Linked DNA regions of Homo sapiens. The protein of the gene in region 2 interacts with the protein of the main gene of each other region in a pairwise test. Each region holds a gene or a part of one and is shown on either strand. Other genes may lie near its edges.

Region 1 (6,801 bases), on a different chromosome or scaffold from region 2:
GGGTGGGGAGCTTCCACATGAGATAGATCACCAGGGGTGGGTGCAGCCTGTAGTCCCACGCCTCTGGGCATCTCACCCCAGGGGCTGGAGGGGAGGATCTCATTTCCTTCCCCTCAGCATCTGAGTCATAGTGCTGATAGCCAGGAAAGTGGCCCTGGCCATTGCCCCTCAGGACCATGTCCCTACAGCCTCGCAGCCCTGAGTTTGCATGCTACGGGCAGATGGCTGCTGCCTCATCTCCCAGGGCCCTCGAGGGGTGCTTTTCCTCCAGGAAATACTTTGCGGCCCACTGTCTGCTGGCAGCCGGGTGGGTCCTCATTCCCTGCAAAGTCCAGCCTGTTAGACAGACGTCTCCTAGAGCCTTTCTGAGAAAAAGCTGCTCACAGCTCACTGGCCACTTCCTCCAGGCCTGGTGAAGGCAGAGGGGCGCCTCTTCCCAGCATCCCTGTCAAAGTCCCTGTGTGCAGGAGCCTGAGCTCCTTTCCTGGGCTGTGGGTGGCTGAGTCCTTGCTTTAAGGCCTGTTTTCCTGTGTCAGCCACACAAGGTGGCCCCAGCCCCTGGGCAGGTGGTAAGAAGCATAGGTCCTGGACCCACCCTGGAGTCCCGTGTGCAGGAACAGGCTGTGGACTCCTATGTGAAGTCCATTCCTGGGGCTCAGTGTCTCCTGCAGTCTGACGCTCAGTTATGTGGAGAAATGGGCAGTGGGACTGTCCAGGCTGAGAGCCTGGAGACCTCCAGCACCTGCGGGAAACCCCATCTCCATAGTGCACATTCTCGATACTCTCGTGGCCTCCGGGGGCATCAGGGGGCTAAGCTGAAGGACCCGATGGCCTCTGGTGGCCCTGGCCCAGCTGCTCTGTCTGCTCAGGAAACACCGCAGCATAAGGCCGTCCAGAGGAACGTAGGGCTTTGCCAGATGTCGAAGCAGACAGTGGCCTTCGTGTGGCAGCTGCTCCAGATGTGGAAAGGTCACAGGGGCCGCTGGCTGCGGGCTCATGCCAGGCAGGGGCAGGCCGCCTGAGAGGGTTTGCTGTGGGACCGCCCTGGGCTCTGAGCCCTGCCTGCGGTGGTGCAACCGGCGGTCTGTTCACGCCCGTCTCTGCTGTCGGCCCGCAGGCTTCATCATCTACTTTGGCTATGGCCTGTGGCACAGCGAGGAGGCGTCCCTGGATGCCGACCAAGCAAGGACTCCTGACGGCAACTTGGACCAGTGCAAGTGACGCACAGCCCCGCCCCCCGGAGGTGGCAGCAGCCCCGAGGGACGCCCCCAGAGGACCGGGAGGCACCCCACCCTCCCCACCAGTGCAACAGAAACCACCTGCGTCCACACCCTCACTGCAGCCAAAGGTGCAATTACTTGACCTGCAGCCCCAGCCCACCCTCGGCTCTGCAGCCGGTTCTCCGGGCCCTGGTCACCTCCAGACAGCTGCCTGGCCGGGGCCACTAGGCTGCGGCTGGCCACTGTGTCTCCTCACTTCTCTGAACAAAGCAGTTCCTCCCCTACCAGCTCAGCCCCGAGCTGCCGCAGCCTCAGGCAGAACGGAGGTCACCTTCTCTCCTTATCTTGGGAACCAGGCCTTCCTCCCGGGGACTGTTCTGGGATTGAAATTGTGCATACTCCAAACTTTCGCAGCCATCTTCCCGCTCAGCCCCAGACACCCAGCAATCAAGCCAGATGAGTACCACAAAACAGTGTGTCCCCAGCAGCTCCCCACCCCAGAGCCAAATGACAGTAGTGCACTTAAAAAGGAAAATCAGGCCTGTTGTCCTTCTCCGGTTGCATTCAGATGGGTCATTAGGGCCGGACCCTGCCTGCCCCTTGGCTTCTCAGGGCTTTGCTCTGACACCATGACAGCTGCCCGGGGCTGAGGGCAGCTGGCTCCACTCAAATGAGGAAGAAGGGATCACTCCCATTAGGGCCTGCTTTGCTTATGCATGTGTGTGCACATGCATGTAAACCAGGGACCTTCAGCTCACGGCCTCCAGGCCTGGGCCAGTTCTTGCTGCTCCTGCCGTCTCCCCCGACTGGCTGTGTCCTGAGTAACTGGAACATGAGACAGTATCTGCAGGACTGGCCCCATGGTGGCCGAGTCAGAAGTCTGTTTCCTGTGAGTCGCCACCGTTCACTCAGTCTTGCCCTCCCATGCTTTGGAGCCAGTCTGGTGGCTCCTGTAAGGTTCTCAAGGCTGGTGGCAGCTCAGTCTGGGGTCAGGACATGTCGGGGTCATGCGTTTCTGGCCCTGACATAAGCTGTCTGGCCTCTCTGTGACATGATGAAATTGAAATCAATCCACAGTCCATGAAATTGTGACACTCCACCAGATTAAGTTAGGGCATAACATTAACTTGGAAATGGCCATGTCATCACCCCTGCGGCTGTCCTATAGCTGAGATGCGTGGGTCGCAGGGGAGGTGATTTCTAGGCATATTGCTGTCCCTTTTGTGTATCTGTCATCCGGATGCTTCGGACCCCACGCCTCTGCAAGTGGGAGAGACCCGAGCATCCTCCCCACCCCCATAGCTCCAGTGCACGCCACCCCCGTCTTGCCTGGGTCGGGGCCTGCGGCCAGCACCATTTCACACACACTCCTTGTAGATGGGAGCCAGAGGAAACCTGAACGTGGGTGGAGCGTTCCACTGAGTCTACTTCAGGAGACAGAAGGCCCATGCTGATGGGGGAGGAGGAGGGATGTGGGCATTTTGGACACCAGGGGAAATGGAAATGCTGCTTTCAAAACTTAGTTTCCTTTCCATTTCTTCCTAGTCTGGCCTTTGACACAAATCTGGTAGAAAGAAGCCTGATAAATTGAGGGCACTTGTACCCTCCCTGTGCCCCCAGAAGGTTCTTGGAGAGAAGTGCAAGAATTTGTGAACACGGCGGTGGAGGGCGGGTGGATGGCCATGGGCTGAGCCTCCGTATCAGGCCTGCTCACCTTGCTGGGAGCTTTATTCTGATCTCATTTTGAATGTTCCAGAGGGAGCATCATAAGAGCCCAGAGCTCCGATTTCCAAAGAGTGATATTGACATTTATGGAGATTGGTGTTGTAACATATTTTGATAAATACTAACTTATTTTGTTGGGGTTTTGGTTGTCTCTTGTCTTAGGACCTGGTAGTTATTTGCTTGATTTTTTTTTCCGTTATTTTCTACATAGGCAAAGAGAATTCGAGGGATAGACAGTCTCCAAGAAAAGTGAAGTGGTGGGAGAGAATTGCTTTTTTCTTTTTTTTCTTTTCTCTAGTTTTTCTTTCTGGCTGAGATTTCCGTGCAAGACAGCACCCAATAGACTATTTAGAGTTGACATTTGACATTTTAATGGGCGCCATGGCTCATTTTGTAGATTGAGAAGGTGCGTCTCCCCTGCTCCAAGTCTCATCATGACAGCGTGCTGACAGCTGGGAGTCTGTGGCCTTCCTCACGCAGAGGCCTTAAAGCTGGACACAGAAGCACGCCTAGGCTGGGCAGGGATGGGACCCATGCCCCCTCCTTAGAGGACGGGCTTCCTGGTTAGGAAAGGACACGTGGGGGTGCCTTGCATAATAGTTCACTGGTCACCGTGCTTTTATGAGTAGTGTTTTTGTGCACTTGCCAGGGGTTTTCTCTCTGTGTGAGAGGGGAGTGATTTAAGCAATGGTGTCTGGAGTAAGCCTTACAATTTTAATAGACTTTTTCTTATCATATCCCTCATTTCTTTCCCTGAAATAAAAATACACACAAGCAAAAAAAAAATGATAGTTTCACATCTCTTAGTTCCCTTGCCCAAACAAGAATATTCTTAGTTCCACTGGCCAGGATTTTCCTACATAGTCAGAACTTACACATTACTAGAGGCACACCCACCAAGGAGTATTGTGTCTACTTTTATCTGTGCACCAGCCACAAATACCCACATTGGAAAGACCCATTTGTGATGGGTAAACATCCCTTCCTGTCTCCCACAACCCCTGTGACTGCCCTGCATGTGTTCATGACCTCCGAAGGCCCAAATTCATGAAGCAGCAAACCCAGCAGATCTCCACCCCCCTGCCTCAGGACCTCTGCTGAAGAGGGGGATGAAGTGGGTCTCCAGGGAGGCAGTGGGGGCCTTGTTGGCAGCTGGCTCGGGAGCCGGCTTACAGGAGGGCAGCTCTGCAGTTGGGAGGGGCACCGTCCGGAGGAGACCAGGCCTCTACACACCCCCCACTCTACTTATCATCCCTGCTCACACACCCTTGTCCAAGGCTTTATGCATCGGATTTATTTTTCCAAATCAAGAGGACAGTGATAGATGCATTTTCCCCAGGCTGTCTCAGAAAGGTCGCTAAATGTATACTGTTGTCAGAATTGCTGAGATCTCCCCCCACTTTTGGTTTTTGCAGCAGTAAAAACTCTTTCCACTGTGACTTATTTTCTCTCTCAGGCAGCCAGCCACCTGGTCCCTTGTGCTGACTCTAGCACAGTGGCCAGGATCCAATACGAGTCCAGGGGTGACCGCAGGATGGTGGGGGCAGCGGGCTTCTCCACCTACCCCAGCCACCAAGGCCCTGACGCACTGCCTCCTGCACCTTCAGCACATCCCTGTGCACAGCTGGAAGGGTGCATGGCCCGCTCACCTTTGTTCAGATGGGTGGAAACGCTGATGATACCAGCTCCTCCCTGCCGTGCCCCTGCCACGGAGCAGGCATTGTGAACTGGCTGGTGTTTGCAGTCCCACGTGGCATGGCCTCCAGCCCAACCCACAGTGGAGACTGGAGACAGGGCAATGAGTCTGGTGGGGGGCACGTGGACATGCCCCATAGGGGCCCCACCCAGACTTAACAGGCAAGGTCCTGGGCATTGCGCGACGCAGGACTCAATGCTAAAGCAAGCCTGCCTGGCTCTGTGCCAGGGCCCCTCTTCTGATTCACACATCCCATTTTTACACAGACCCTTCCTTCTTAATAAAGGCTGACAGTTCTGTTGGCAGCCAAGAACCCACACCATGAAGACAGGGAGTGAGGGGCCTTTGTGCCCAACTCCAGCACAGCTGCGTTCTGGGGTGTGTGAGAGGCATGTTCGTGTCTGTGCGCTGGTGGTCTCGTGAGACAGTTCCGAGGACGGGGAAATTGCAGGGTGGTGGGGGCGTGAGGCTTATATGTGGAACTGATGCAGAGTTCGCCTGCAGACGGATCTGGATATACACTATGTATAATTGTTACGTGTAATTTAAAATATATCTGTTTGCCATCGTCATGAGAAGATTATATGTAAGGCTCTGAAGGGAGAGGGAGATGTACATTCTGCCAGGCTCCTGGGGACCTTATCCGAGTCATGAAATTGATTACTGTTGATCCAGTGGTGCAAGAAGCTACACTCCATGTGTCATCACGCTTATGACTCCTAATGTATTTTTAAGGCAAAAAATGTCAGCCGACTCCATCTTCACCCCTCGATTCCTCGAGTCCAGCCTTTCTGTGCCAGTGCTTCACTGAGCCACAACGCTCTCGCCATCGGGACCCGGCTGGGCCTGGAGTCTCGGGGCACAGTTGCCATGGAGCCCTCCTGGGTCATTCTACAAATGTGCTGAGTGCCAGCTGAAAACCCCACAGGAGATGGAGTACCTTGGCCAAGCTTAAAGAGAAGATTTTCTCAGGGTATTTATTAGTGTGTCCAGCAGGGTCAGGAAGCAGGATGGAAAGATGCACTCAGACTGTTAATTTATTAACAAGGCAAATGATTTTGTGTTTCTTGATGACAGACTATTAAGTTTGGGACTTATTTTCCCATTTGAGAAGTTATAATATATATTTAAGATGATAAGTTTCCTGCTTAAGTTGTGCCTTTCAGCTTCAATGAGTTTAAGGAGCACTAAGGGTAATGATACCAATGAGGGTTGGTTTATTATCAAACCTGAATAGCTGTGGTTTCTCCAGTAAATATTTTCTTCTACTGAACATGGAGCCATTATTAAGAGTTGTGTGTTTTTTATTATGTACATTTGTATATTTTTTTGCTTGTTTGATGTTCTATTTTTCTAATAGTTTTCTTTTAGTTTCTTAAAGTTGTGATACTAGATTTAGATTCTGATGCTAACTGCAAATCAGGTTGGTCTCTGCTGGGTCTCTCCTGCTTTTATTTTACTTTAAGGACAAGTGTAGTTGTCGTCCACCACCTTTCAAAAAATGTGAAACTGCCCTGCCTCCCCTTTTTGCTGACAACACTGTGTACATTGACCACTTCCTACCATACTTTATGTTGTAAAATCAAACTCTTTTGTGGTACATTATCTCATGCTTCTGCAAATTCGAATAAATTCTATGGCTTCCATGTGCATGGTGTGATCTCAAGAATCCTAGTGGGTCTCTCCTGGGACCCAGGCCTGGAAGTGCCCCATGGAGAGTTCCAGATCCCGCTCTGCTTCCCCACAGCCCGTGACTTTAGTCCTATCTTCTCACTTTCCTGTAGCCATTTGGGGAAAATCCTTATTCCAACAATTTGAGCCTCAACCAGAGAATCCCTTGAGCCCCCATTTTGGATCTCTGATACTGTCTGCAGATTTATTTGGCTTTGGGGCCACAGAGGTCTTCCTTCCAACCAAGCTGTTGGGATAAAGCAGCTCAGAGGCTGCCAGTTGTCAGGCATTTGCTGAAGGACTTGGTCTCTGGCAACAAAACGCCCTCACCTGTTGCCGCCCCAGTCTGTGCTGGCCTGCACATACACTATCCTGTTAGAGGGAGCAGAGTGCATGCAGGGCGGAGGGGCTGTCGGGGAGTGTAGCTATCCTGGTAATTGTTACTATCTCACTCCCTCAACTCCCTTGAGAAAGGATCCATTTTTGCAC
Region 2 (7,026 bases):
GAGAATTTAAAAAAAAAGAAGCTTGGATGCATAATGAATGATCCAGGTTCTATATTCCCAGATCAAAGTGCTCATCCTGTGAAGGCACATAAAACATGAATGCAGTAAGATTTTCACACTTTAGGGTATAGAATAGATAGATAGATAGATAGATAGATAGATAGATAGATAGATAGATGTGTGTGTGTTTATATATGTGTGTATATATATACATATACTTTTTTTTTTTTGAGACAGAGTTCGCTTTTGTTGCCCAGGCTGAAGTGCAATAGTGCGATCTCTGCTCACTGCAACCTCCGCCCAAGTTCAAGTGATTCTCCTGCCTCAGCCTCTCGAGTAGCTAGGATTACAGGCACCCACCACCACGCCTGGCTAATTTTTTGTATTTTTACTAGAGACGGGGTTTCACCATGTTGGCCAGGCTGGTCTCAAACTCCCGACCTCAGGAGATCCACCCCCTTGGACTCCCAAAGTGCTGGGACTACACGCGTGAGCCACCAGAATATATATATTTTTAAGACAGCATTTTACTCTGTTGCCCATGCTGTAGTGCAGTGGCACAATCATGGCGCACTGTAGCCTCGACCTCCCAGGGCTCAGATGATCCTCCCAGGGCTCAGGTGATCCTCCCAGGGCTCAGGTGATCCTCCCAGTTCAGCCTTCCGTGAGTGTCTGGGACTACAGGCAAATACCACCATGCCTGGCTGCCTAATTTTTAAACTTTTTGTAGAGACGAGGCCTTGCTATGTTGCCCAGGCTGGTCTCGAACTTCTGGGCTCAAGCGATCCTCTCACCTGGCCTCCCAAAGTGTTGGGATTACAGGCATGAGCCACTGCACCCAGTTTAAGATTTACAATGGGCCGGGCACGGTGGCTCACGCCTGTAATCCCAACACTTTGGGAGGCTGAGGTGGGTGGATCACGAGCTCAGGTGATCGAGACCATCCTGGCTAACAAGGTGAAACCCCATCTCTACTAAAAATACAAAAAAAAAAAAAAAAAACGGGCGTGGTGGCAGGCGCCTGTAGTCCCAGCTACTCGGGAGGCTGAGGCAGGAGAATGGCACGAACCCGGGAGTCGGAGCTTGCAGCGAGCTGAGATAGCGCCACTGCACTCCAGCCTGGGGGACAGACCGAGACTCCGTCTCAAAGGAAAAAAAAAATAAAAAAAATATTTTTTTAATTCTTGAGCTACATGTTACAGAAAACACCAAGAAGTTTAAAATACAGTCCCTGACATTGGTTTTAAAAAAACGGAGAAGCCAGATGCAATGGCTTATGCTTGTAATCCCAGCATTTTGGGAGGCCGAGATGGGAGGATTGCTTAAGTCCAGGAGTTCAAGACTGCAGTGAGCTACAATCATGCTACTGCACTCCAGCCTGGGTGACAAACCAAGCCCTAGTCTCAAAAAACAAAAAAGAAAGAAACTGAGGATAGGAGATCCATGAGGGGCTACCAATGAAACAAGACTGTTACAGATCACTTTGAAGAAGACGGATGATGGATATGTGGATGTTCACGATACCATTCTCTCTCAACCTACAGAGATTCGGATGTTAAAAAGAAAGTTTCCTGCCCTCAAGAAGCGAGTGGATTCATCATGTTGCCCAGGGCTGGTCTCAAACTCCCGGGCTCAGACAATCTGCCCATCTCAGCCAACCAAAGTGCTAGGATTACAGGCATGAATCAATGCGCCTGGCCTCAATATAGCACTTCTAATCCGGAGGACCAGCCAAAGATGTCGAGAGCAGTAAGAAACTGTAAATTACAAGCACCAGGGAAAAAGGAATAGCAGAACAACAGCATGGGAGGACAGAAATAACTCTGCCCAAGAGTGAAGAAACCAGGATCTTAGAACCAGCTGGACTAACATATGATGACTGTAAAAAACTTCTTGGGGCTTGAGTTTAATTGTCAATTGAATTGTAACAATACCAATTACCTTAGCAGGAAGAGAGTGATGACCTGAGCTGGTTCTTTATGCTTATGCACCTCTTTTTATTAAGGATGGTTTTTGCTTAACTTTATACTTCTGGGCTTCTCCCTGAATGTTTTTTTGTTGTTGTTGTTTGTTTTGTGTGGGCTTTTTTGTGGGGTTTTTTTTGAGACAGGTCTTGCTGTGTCACCCAGGCTGGAATGCAGTGGCGTGATCATGGCTCACTACAGCTTCACCATTCTGGGCTCAAGTGATCCTCCCACCTCAGCAACCTCCCCCACCTCCCCCAAGAAGCTGGGACTAAAGGTGCACGCTACCACACCCAGCTAATTTTTTGTATTTTTTATCAGAGACAGGGTTTCACCATGTTGTCCAGGCTGGTCTCAACTCCTGGCTTCAAGCAATCCACCTGCTTCAGCCTCCCAAAGTGCTGGGATTACAGGTGTGAGCCACTGCACCCAGCCCTCCCCTGAATGTTGAGTCTCAAAATCCTCTGAACTAAACGGCATTATTCCTGTTATGCAGACAAAGAAACTGAGGCCTTAGAGGTTCTGATATGAGCAAAAAGAACCAGCACAGGTCATCTCCCCCTCATTCTTTTCCAATAAGTAGTTTTCCATACACTGAAGATTGCCGATAATTGACTTTCTCAGCTTCTGTTTTCCTGACATAGAGCCAAGGTGGTAAAGAGAACGCCCACCATCTTGATAGTGCCTGCAAACATGCCGAGTTCTAAAGGACATGGATTGTTTTCTATTCATAGCATTGCCCAGGGCACATCCTAGGAGAATGGCGAAGGCACTGCTGAATTTAATCAAGTAAAAAACTGTCACTTTCCTACCTGCATGTAGAATACCTAAAAAATAATCTCAATGCTTACCTATCCACAGCTCTGTCTAGCAAGTAAAACAGAGCCTGAAGTACCACATGTTGGACTGACTTGTGGGGATGATGCAACCTGGCAGTAAAGAGGGCAATGGAGGCTCCTGTTGGGTCCCGAACATTCTAAAGCAAATAAAACAAGAAACATTAAAAAAATCAAATAGAAAATCACAGCAATTACTAAGACTTATATACTGGATAAGGGTTTGATACATGTAGAAAACAGATGCTAACAATAATTCCCTGACTTCACCAATTGCTGTCCAAAGGGAAGAGTGTTAATATCATCCTTTGTCTGATTCTCCCAGGACTCCCTGGACCATATTTCTGTGGTAAGAAAAAAAAAACACATTCTCTTTGCTCTTCAACTACAGACAGATCAAAGGATGGCTGTGCACTGGCTTCCTAGCTAACTTCCCTGGCAGAATGGCAAAAGAAACAAGCAGCAGGAGAGAACCAGGGAACAGGACCATGATTTCCACCCTCTGCCTTAAAAGTGCCATTGTATGTTTACTTGAAAGGCTGAGGTCTCAACTAAGTGGAGAGCTTGCGTTAAATATGGAAGCATGGGTGTCTGACACATTGCATATCTCTCCCAAAGACCATGACTAACCTTAATGGACCAACTGAAGAAACTTTTCTAAGTCTACTGTACAACTGATTTTCCATAATTCAATTATTCAATTATCATTAGTAACTCTAATTACTAGAAACTATTAGTAATTCAATTGTTACTAAAATAATTTTATACCAAACTGCATGGCTGTTTCACATCTGCTCCTAACTGTGGAGACTCTCTAGATTCAGGATAAGGTATATAGGAACAAAGTCCAAACAGGGGGGGATGGAGGAGGGATAGCATTAAGAGATATACCTAATGCTAAATGACGAGTTAATGGGTGCAGCACACCAACAAGGCACATGTATACATATGTAACAAACCTGCACGTTGTGCACATGTACCCTAAAACTTAAAGTATAATAATAATAAAATTAAAAAAAAAAAAAAAAAAACAAAGTCCAAACAGGACACCAGTTAAAAAAGGAAGTAATAAGGCCCTACAAGATAGGTCCCTAAACACTCACTAAGATGGTGAATTTTCCACTGAGGATCTCAGAACGAAGAGGTTCCTCATGAGGTTTCAGCTTTACAATGCCTTCCTTCCTTCGAGTTTCCTAAAAAGGAAGCACAGCAAAATGTATTAATATGAAAATACTGTATATCCAGGACAGCACCATGTAACCACCAAATCTCAGAGATAAGGTGGTTATCAATGAATGAATGAATTATAAATTTCATAACTAAATAAATTTTGTAACTAATTTCATAACCAATTCTACTTCATTTAGTTGAATTAGAATTCAATTAAATGGGCCGGGCGCAGTGGCCCACGCCTGTAATCCCACCACTTTGAGAGGCCAAGGCGGGCAGGTCACCTGAGGTCAGGAGTTCGAGAGCAGCCTGGCCAACATGGTGAAACCTTGTCTCGGCTAAAAATACAAAAATTAGCCTGGCATGGTGGTGCGCGCCCATAATCCCAGCTACTCAGGAGGCTGAGGCAGGAGAATCGCTTGAACCCAGAAGGTGGAGGTTGCAGTAAGCCAAGACAGCACCACTGCACTCCAGCCTGGGTGACAAAATGAGACTCTGTCTCAAAAAAAAAAAAAAAAAAAAAAAAGAATTCAGCTAAATGAATAATGAAGTCAACTAAATGAATTATGAATTTCTTTGTAACCTGCCTCCAAGCCAGTCAAGCATTTTCGGAATTCCTGTCCAAAGCTACTTTATCAGCCCCTCAGGTAGGGTATTTTTCTCTGACTCAGTAAGAACCCTAACCCTGAAGAGTAACCAGTATGTTACATTCAGGTGCAGGATCAAGGTTCTTAAACACGCAGCAGCACTGACATGGTACCAGGACACTAAAATATGGACCTCAAAAATGTCTGGATGCCTACGTTCTCACATATTTTCTAGGTTTAGGCCTCTCCTATGTTTAAATAGGAGCCTTCTCTCCACCTGATATTGTCTCCAACAGCAGCTACCATGACTTCATTTTCCTCACCCTGATGGCCAGATTCTTTTTTTTTTTTTAATTGAGACCAAGTCTCACACTGTTGCTGAGGCTGGAGTGCAGTGGCATGATCTTGGCTCACTGCAACCTCCACGTCCAAGAGATTCTCTTGCCTCAGCCTCCTGAGTAGCTGGGATTACAGGCACGTGCCACCATGCCTGGCTAATTTTTGTGTTTTTAGTAGAGACGGGGTTTTGCCATGTTGCCCAGGCTGGTCTCCAACTCCTGGGCTGAAGCGATCCACCCGCCTCGGCCTCCCAAAGTGCTGGGATTACAGGCATGAGCCACCGCGCCCAGCCTCTTCAGTTCTCCTCTTAAATGACAAGGTTGACCACCTACACTTCCTTTTTCCGGAGACATTCTCTACCTTTATATACCGATAACAAAAAAATATTATCTTGGTTTGTCTTATTTCATCAACCGCTTGTTTTAAACCTCTTAGGCTGGGCACGGTGGCTCATGCCTGTAATCCCAGTACTTTGGGAGGCCGAGGTGCGTGGATCACTTGAGCTCAGGAGTTCGAGACCAGCCTGGGCAACATAGCAAAACCCCGTCTCTACTAAAAATACAAAAAATTAGCCAGGTATGGTGGTGCATGCCTGTGGTCCCAGCTACTCGGGAGGCTAAGGTGAGGTGGGAGGATCACTTGAGCTCAGGAGGCAGAGATCTGCAGTGAGCTGAGATCATGCCACTTCACTTCAGTCTGGGAGACACAGCAAGACTCTGTCTCAAAAAAAAAAGTGCTTCCACAGAATCCAGTGCTGCCTTATCATAACATTTCTACAACTCTTTGTTTATTTTCTCTTTCTTTTTTTTTTTTTTAAACAGTCTCACTCTGTTGCCCAGACTGGAATGCAATGGTGTGATCTCGGCTCACTGCAACCTCCACCTCCTTGGTTCAAGTGATTGTCCCTCCTCAGCCTCCCGAGTAGCTGGGAATACAGGTGCCACTACACCCAGCTAATTTTTGTAGTTTTAGTAGAGATGCGGTTTTGCCATTTTGTTCAGGCTGGTCTCAAACTCCTGACCTCAAGTGATCCACCTGCCTTGGCCTCCCAAAGTGCTGAGATTACAGGCATGAGCCACCGCACCCAGCCCTAGTCTCTCTTTCTAAATAGTAATCTCTGCACCTGGAACACAGTAAGTATAAAATAAGTATCTGTTGAGTAAATGAATGAATATTGAATGAGCTGGTCCACAAGACAGATGTAACCAAACTTCAGTTAAGCTAATCCTAGTGCTTGTTATCCCAATTTTTTTTTTTAGGGAGATTTTGTATTTCTTTAGAAGGATTCTGACCCCAAAGTAACATGCTGTATAGTGTTTTATCAAAGACACTACTAACTGAGAAAGCAAACAAGCACAAAACCAAAGTCTATGCCCCCTCAAAAAACAAAAATCAAAACAAAGTAAAATCCTGATGCCGCTACATTTGCATAAAGATACTTTAAGATAATGGACCTAGCTAATACACAGTTGCTCTTCTTTTCCAGTGTTAAAACTTCCCTTCCTGAACTGCCCACTAAGCTCATCATTCATCTGAATGGCAAGTTTCTAAAAGCCTTAGACAACCTGAAAACCAAGATTTTCATGTGGCCAGAGGCCAATGAAAAGAGCTAGGATTAAAACTCTAGGAAGGGTGAACCCCTATCCTGCCACCAGGATGCTGTCAGGCTACTTCCTCCGTCTCAATCATTAGATGTGGCATCCTGGTCTACGATCAAAACTTAGGTACAAAAGTAGTGCCTTCCAGTAGCTGCCTTGCCCAGCTTCAGCTCTCACAAGGGCTCCTGGATATGGATCCATTTTTTATGAAAGTGAGGAGGAACACTTAGAGAACCAATGTGTGTGTCGAGCATGACAGGGACAACAGCAACACTTAACCCAACTGCCACAGGTCTGGTCTACCCCTGAGCCACATACTCTGTAGGAGTGGAACAATTCTATGGCACGGAGCACATCAAACTTCCTTGCCATGAGGAACTTGACAGCCACATTCCAAGACAGCGGGGAAACATTGTACTGAACTGTCCACTTGTTAATCTCTTCGAGAAACTGCTTGGTAGCCTGTTTGACAAAGAAAGAAAGAATAATTAGTAAGAAGAGAGCATATTTATGGAGTCAAAAAACAAACAAG
Region 3 (7,321 bases), on a different chromosome or scaffold from region 2:
CAATTCAAGAGTGCCTCCAAAATGGTGAGTAGGAATGAAGACTTCCAGACACTTCTATTCTTGCCTTTACCCAGAATTCTCTTGCTTCAGTGTTTTCCCCATTTTCATGAGCCCATGTGTGAAATAGGGTAAGGAACTGTGGAGGAGAAAGTTTTTTATTAGCCTTCCTCAGGGTATTCCATTCTCAATCTATCCTTTCTCAGTCCCAAAAGGCCTACTGAGCTGAACTGCCTAAGACATAATCATTCACCAAATATTTAAATACACACATTTAAAGAGATACAATTCCAGATGCAATGGGAGACAAAAAAAAAAAAAAGTTGTCAGGGCCATCAAGAAGCTTTCACAAGGTGAAGGGAGGGCTGGAGTATCTCAGAACATTGTTACTTAAAGTGTGGTAGTGGGCCAGCAGTATAGGTGTCACCTAGGAGATTGTTATTAATAAAAATGCATAAATTCAGGCCCTACTCCAGACCTACTGGACCAAAATGTGCGTGTTAGTAAGATCTCCAGGTGATTCTTAGGCACAGAAAAGTTCTAGAAGCACTGGCCTGGAAGTGGAAAGTACTGTGAGAATTCAGGGTAATTGTGCTTTTTAGCATTTTACATAAAATTATGTTGTTGAATTTTCATAATCCTATGAAGTAGGTGCTGTTACTATATTTGACAAAGAACGAGATGAAGTGTCTTGCCTGGCTGGCACAAATAGAGGTGGAGCCCAGTTTCCAATCTCTTCTGACTAGAAGAATGTCAGAGAGGGACATTTAGTGTAAAGGAATAACAGATGGAAAGTTGCAGGTGGTATTTGAAGTACCAAAAATACCACAGTTCTGTAATGTGAGTGTTGTTTGTGAAGGTGAATAGTGGGAAATACAATTTGAAGTGTAGGTGAAAGCCAGGTTATTCAACTCAAACTCCACAGTCATATGGTGCTGACATTTCTTCATTTGAGTATAGAGATGGGAAACGTGCATATTTTTTTCTGTGAATAACATGTAACCTACGAAAAAGGCAAGTTTTCTTTTCTGAAAGAAACTTACTCATTTTTGTTATTTTTTGAGGCGAGGTCTCATTAGGTTGCCCAGGCTGATCTTGAACTCCTGAGCCCAAGCAATCTTCCCACCCCAGCCTCCCAAAGTGCTGGAATTGCGGGCATGAACCGCTGCACCCGGCCAGAAACTTCTAAAACTCAGAAAAGTTGCTCCTCCTCACCTCCTACCCCAAGGTAAACTGTGATACCTCCTGGCTTTATACTACTGATTTTATACCCTATTATATAGAACTGTGTCTAGAGAGAGTGGCCTATCCCTCTGTGACCTTCTTGGTCTACTCCTGCAGGAGTGGCTTCTGTGACAGACTGCATTTGGAGGTTTGATTCACTCTGGGGAAGGTAACCAGGATAGGCAAGAGATTTAAAAATCTGTCAGCATGTATTTGACAGGTATAACCTGAAAAAAAAGACCAGAGGCGTAGGAAAGCTATCTAAATGGTTAAGAAGCCAAATATTTACAAAGCATATACCATCTGCTAGCCCCTGGGTGGTAGGTGTTGAACAAGACTCATTTCCTGCATCATAGAGATTTAAGAATCCAGTAAGGGACTGGGTGCGGTGACTCATGCCTGTAATCCCAGCACTTTGGGAGGCACAGGCAGGAGGATATTTGAGGTCAGGAGTTTGAGACCAGCCTGGCTAACATGGTGAAACCCTGTCTCTACTAAAAATACAAAAATTAGCCGCGCTGTAGTGGTGCATGCGCCTGTAATCCCAGATACTAGGGAGGCTGAGGCAGGAGAACCGCTTGAACCCAGGAGGCACAGGTTGCGGTGAGCCAAGATCAGGCCACTGCACTCCAGCCTGGGCAACAGAGTGAGACCCTGTGCCCCCAACCTCCCCACCCCCAACAAAAAAAATAATCCAGTAGGGAAGACAGACATTAAAACAGTACAAATAATAAAGTAAAAGTGCTTTTAAACAGGGGGGGTGGAGGGGCTTATGAGAAGGGGACCAAAAAAGGACAGCAAAAGCTTCATTGAGGATAATGTTTAAACTGAAACCTAAAGAATCAATAGAAGTTAGCCAGGCAATAATCTGTAGTCCCAGCTACTCGGGAGGCTGAGGTAGGAGGATCACTTGAGCCCAGGAGTTAGAGGCTGTACTGTGCAATAATCGCACCTGTGAATAGGCATTGACCTCCAAGCTGGGGGAGGAGGGGGAAGCTAGGCAAAGAACAAGAGTAATCCAATTATGTGCCAAAGCTTTGTGGTTCAACAGCTTGGTGTGTTGGTGACATTGATAAGACTACTATAGCTGGAGTTGAAAGAACAAATGGCAGAGGAAGAGAAGACTTGGTAGGTAAGCAGGGACCAGGCATTTTAGTGCCCTGTTAGCCATGTTACAGATTTTGGATTTTGTTTGAAAGACAATGAAGAACCTATAAGAATTTTTCAAAGGCGGACTGGGTGCTATTTCTCATGCCTGTAATCCCAGCACTTTAGGAGGGCAAGGTAGGAGGATCACCTGAGATCAGGAGTTCGAGACCAATCTGGCCAATATGGTGAAACCCCATTTCTACTAAAAATGCAGAGATCAGCCAGGCGTGGCACGTGCCTGTAGTCCCAGCCACTCAGGAGGCTGAGGCAGGAGAATCGCTTGAACCCAGGAGGCAGAGGTTGCAATGAGCTGAGATCGCACCACTGCACTCCAGCCTGGGCAACAGAGCGAGACCCTGTCTCAAAAAAAAAAAAAAAAAGAATTTACCAAAGGCTTGAAAGTAGGCATTGCCTAAGTCAGTAAGTCCTAATAGGGCATGATATGGAAGACTACTGAGTGGAAGTGACTGACAGATGAGTGGGTGGATGCCACTATTAAAGGTAAACTGAAGGCCGAGTGTGGTGGTTCACGCCTGTAATCCCAGCACTTTGGGAGGCCTAGGCGGGTGGATCACGAGGTCAGGAGTTCGAGACCAGCCTAACCAACATGGTAAAGCCCCGTCTCTACTAAAAATAAAAAAATTAGCCAGGCGTGGTGGCACATGCCTGTAATCCCAGCTACTCAGGAGGCTGAGCCAGGAGAATCGCTTGAACCCCAGAGGCAGAGGTTGCAGTGAGCCAAGATTGCGCCACTGCACTCCAGCCTGGGAGACAGGGCGAGACCAAAACCCCGCCTCAAAAAAAAAAAAAAAAAAAAAAAAAAAAAAAAAAAAAAGCCCTGTTTATATCCTACCTCCTTGCTGGGTGCAGTGGCTCATGCCTGTAATCTCTGCACTTTGGGAGGCCAGGGCAGGTGGATCACTTGAGGTCAGGCATTCTAGACCAGCCTGGCCAAAATGGTGAAACCCCATCTCTACTAAAAATACAAAAAATTAGCCAGGCGTGGTGGCGGGCGCCTGTAATCCCAGCTACTCAGGAGGCTGAGGCAGGAGAATCGCTTGAACCTAGGAGGCATAGGTTGCAGTGAGCTGAGATCGCACCACTGCACTCCAGCCTGGGCGACAGAGTGACACGCCAGCTCAAAAAAATAAAAATAAAAAATCCCATCTCCTCACATTTCCATTCAACCTCAATACAACTCAGTTTTTTTTATTATGTGAAAACAGCTGCAACAGCTGCTGTCCATTTGAATTGTTGGAAATGTAGATCTACACTAACCAAGAGAGAAGCCACTAGCCACAGGTGGCTATTTAACTTTTTTTTTTTTTTTTTTAGATGGAGTCTCGTTCTGTCACCAAGGCTGGAGCACAACATCAGCTCACTGCAACCTCTGCCTCCCAGGTTCAAGTGATTCTCCTGCTTCAGCCTCCCAAGTAGCTGGGACTACAGGTGTGCACCACCACGTCAGGCTAATTTTTGTATTTTTAGTAGAGACAAGATTTCACCATGTTGGCCAGGCTGGTCTCGAACTCCTGGGCTCAAGTGATCCACCTGCCTCAGCCTCCCAAAGTGCTGGGATTACAGGCGTGAGCCACCATGCCCAGCCAAATTTAGTTAAAATGTAAAATGCAATCTCTGCTGCACTATTCACATTTCAGGTAACTAGTGGTTACCATATTGGACATGGCAGATAAAGAACATTTTCATTATTGCAAAAAGTTGTACTGGACAGCACTATGCTAGAGCCAGAACTAGCCAAAGATCAGACAAAGCAATATGAATGAACTGAAAACCCAGGCCGGTGCCTGGTTGGTTTTGAGTAAGATTCATTGGTTGGGTGAGTGGGAAGCAAGCTGACCTTTGGAACAGTGACATCACAAAGCACAGCTCACAATGGCTCTGGAATACCTAGGCCTCCAGACTACTCCCCCTAACTCATATTTAGATTCCTGAAGCTTCTGCACATGTAGTTCCTAGAGCTGCTGCTTATTAAAATGTCAACATCTTCATCTTCTAGCTGGGACAACCTCTTAGAGTCTCTCTCTCTCAGCACAGTATGGAATTGGATACAAGCAAGTTTTTTGGGAGAGACTAGTGCACCTCAGCAAACAAGTTTGGGACTATTAGATAATCTTGCTCCAGCTGTGCAAATCATCTTGAGGATTTCTTTCTTGATTTTATTGGGAATAGGAATATATGCCTTATGGAAACGAAGTATTCAGTCAATTCAGGTTATACTCTTTTGTTACAAACATTTATATAGTTATAAATTGAAATTTGATTAGTTCTCTCCCATATTGCTGCCACCAGTTTTAAGATCATGCAGATGTGCAAAGGCGAACCTTTGTCTCTTAAGTTGGCAAAAACTAGGTTATCCTTGAAAATCTCCACCAATTAGGCTTTGGGCATAAAAATGCTTTTCTCACAATGGTCTTTGGCTTGTCTTCTGTAATAAAATAGACCAAACATGTTGGTAACCTGAAAAGACAGCCTTACCCTCAAAAATTTTTGATCACTTATTCATCTTTGAGTGCTACTATGTTTATACAATAGGCACCAAAGTAGCTAGGATCATGAGTATGGCCTTTCTTACTATGCCATTGTTCTGTAACTGATAAGGAGGCATATGTATTAAGTCATCACAATGTGTTCATTATTGTGTTTTGACAAGATAAGGCTCCATAAGTATATAGGAGCTCTTTGGGGAGTAGGAATTTAACTGGCTGGGATTGTGAGAGACAGGATTTTACATACTTCTGTGTAGTCACCAATAATAATAGTTGACATACAATATAGTTGAATGCTTTGAGAATCTCAAAAATTCCATGAAATGGATGGAGATTATTTTCACATGACAAGTGAAGAAACTGAGGTGCACTGAGGTTCAGTGGAAACTTAAGGTGACAGGCTTTTAAAACGGCTTTCTTAGAGTGACAAGTTTACTTGATAAATGCAGAGAGAAGTTGTTATTGGATCATTTTTTAGCATTCACTTATTTTCATATGTCACTATTGTTTAGTAATCATGGTCACGGGGCCTTTCTATTTTAAACCATCACAATCCTGCATAACAGTCAGGGAGAGATTATTTGCTCCATTTTGTAGATGAGAGAACTTGATTGCTACCCACCCAAGTTCACATAGTTTGTAAGAGCTGGCAAAATTGGAGTTTGAATCGAATTTTTAGGATTTGAAATTCAGTTCTTCTCCAAAATCTCATTTAATGCAAACCAACTGACCTAAATCTTGAACAGGAATGTGTGTGTGTGTGTGTGTGTGTGTGTGTGTGTGTGTGTGTGTGTGTACGCGCATGCGCATATATATGTGTATTGTGAGGATTAAAGAAGATATTGTATGTGTAAATCTTAGCACATATATTCAATAAGTGGTGCTACAGTGAAACCCCATCTCTACTTAAAATACAAAAATTAGCCGGGTGTGGTGGTGGCACGCGCCTGTAGTCCCAGCTACTCAGGAGGCTGAGGCAGAAGAATTGCTTGAACCCGGGAGGTGGAGGTTGCAGTGAGCCAAGATCGTGCCACTGCACTCCAGCCTGGGCGACAAAGACTGTGTCTCAAAAAAAAAAAAAGTGGTGCTAGTTGTTATAATAAGGAACAAGATGATTTTTTTTCTTATCCTAGCAAGAATCTGTCCTACTATACATATTCTTTTGTTATTTATTTATTTATTTTGAGATGAAGTCTTGCTCTTGTCCCCTAGTCTGGAGTGCAATGGTGCAATTTCGGCTCACTGCAACCTCTGCCTCCCAGGTTCAAGCAATTCTCCTGCCTCACCCTCCCGAGTAGCTGGGATTACAGGCGCATACCACCACACCCAGCTAATGTTTTGTATTTTAAGTAGAGACAGGGTTTCACCATGTTGGCCAGGCTGGTCTCGAACTCCTGACCTCAGGTGATCCGCCCACCTTGGCCTCCCAAAGTGCTGGGATTACAGGCATGAGCCACCGTGCCCAGCATATGCTTTATTTTTATTTTTTATTTTTTTTTTATGTTTTAGAGACAGTGTCTTGCTCTGTCGCCCAGGCTGGAGTGCAGTGGTGTCATCATAGCTCACTGCAGCCTCAAATTCCTGATCTCAGGTGATCCTCCTGCCTCAGCCTCCTGAGCAGTTGGAACCATAGGCATGCACCACCAGGCTTGGCTAATTTTAAAAATTTTTTTGTAGAGACAGGGTCTCGCTACGTTCACTATGTTGCTCAGGCTGGTCTTTAACTCCTGGCCTCATGCAATCCTCCCATCTCAGCCTCTCAAAGTGCTGGATGCAGTGGTCCACACCTATAATTTATTTTATATAAATAAAATATATATATATATACATTAATTTTTTTAAGAGACAGGGTCTGGCTATCTTGCCCAGGCTGAAGTGCAGTAGCCATTCACAGGTGCCATCATAGCACACTACTCCTGGGCTCAGGTGATCCTCCCACCTTACCCTCCCTAGTAGCTGGGACTATATGTGTGTGCCATTGTACCCAGATCTCTCCTAGTATATTTTAAAAACCTTTTCCATGACCAAGAAATCCAGTTTTTCAGACTACTATGTCCTAAAGTGTACTTGGAAGTGTGAATTTCTGGATTCCTGTCCTGGCTCTGCCACTTCCAATATATAACCTTGGACAATGACAGAGTTCAAACTAGAAGGTATATAGTTATCCAGTTGTGTTTTTTCTGCATAAATAGATCATGCAAAGGCAAAGTTACTTCCAGACATTCAGAAAATGGTTATCTATTATTACAATCTTGATTAAATGCAAATAATAATCCTGCCTGACCTGCCTACCTCTCCAGTTTGCAGTGAAAATCAAAAGATGAAATAGGTGTGAAAATATTTTGCTAAGGCCGGGCATGGTGGCTTACGCCTGTAATCCCAGCATTTTGGGAGGCCACGATGGGCGGATCACGAGGTCAGGAGATTGAGAACATCCTGGCTAA

Evidence for each region.
Region 1: the proteins of PTPN9 (region 2) and SLC7A1 interact in binary tests that used the Homo sapiens proteins (3 or more experiments, as listed by UniProt).
Region 3: the proteins of PTPN9 (region 2) and TMCO2 interact in binary tests that used the Homo sapiens proteins (3 or more experiments, as listed by UniProt).

The regions. Positions count from the first base shown.
Region 1 is NC_000013.11:29,508,900-29,515,700, reverse strand, and holds the end of SLC7A1 (high affinity cationic amino acid transporter 1), read left to right. Parts: intron 1-1,117; coding exon 1,118-1,221; 3' UTR 1,222-6,287; downstream 6,288-6,801. UniProt on the Homo sapiens protein: High-affinity, low capacity permease involved in the transport of the cationic amino acids (arginine, lysine and ornithine) in non-hepatic tissues.
Region 2 is NC_000015.10:75,520,306-75,527,331, forward strand, and holds part of PTPN9 (tyrosine-protein phosphatase non-receptor type 9), read right to left. Parts: intron 6,957-7,026; coding exon 6,813-6,956; intron 3,994-6,812; coding exon 3,904-3,993; intron 2,941-3,903; coding exon 2,816-2,940; intron 1-2,815. UniProt on the Homo sapiens protein: Protein-tyrosine phosphatase that could participate in the transfer of hydrophobic ligands or in functions of the Golgi apparatus.
Region 3 is NC_000001.11:40,243,630-40,250,950, forward strand, and holds the start of TMCO2 (transmembrane and coiled-coil domain-containing protein 2), read left to right. Parts: upstream 1-4,307; 5' UTR 4,308-4,364; coding exon 4,365-4,601; intron 4,602-7,321.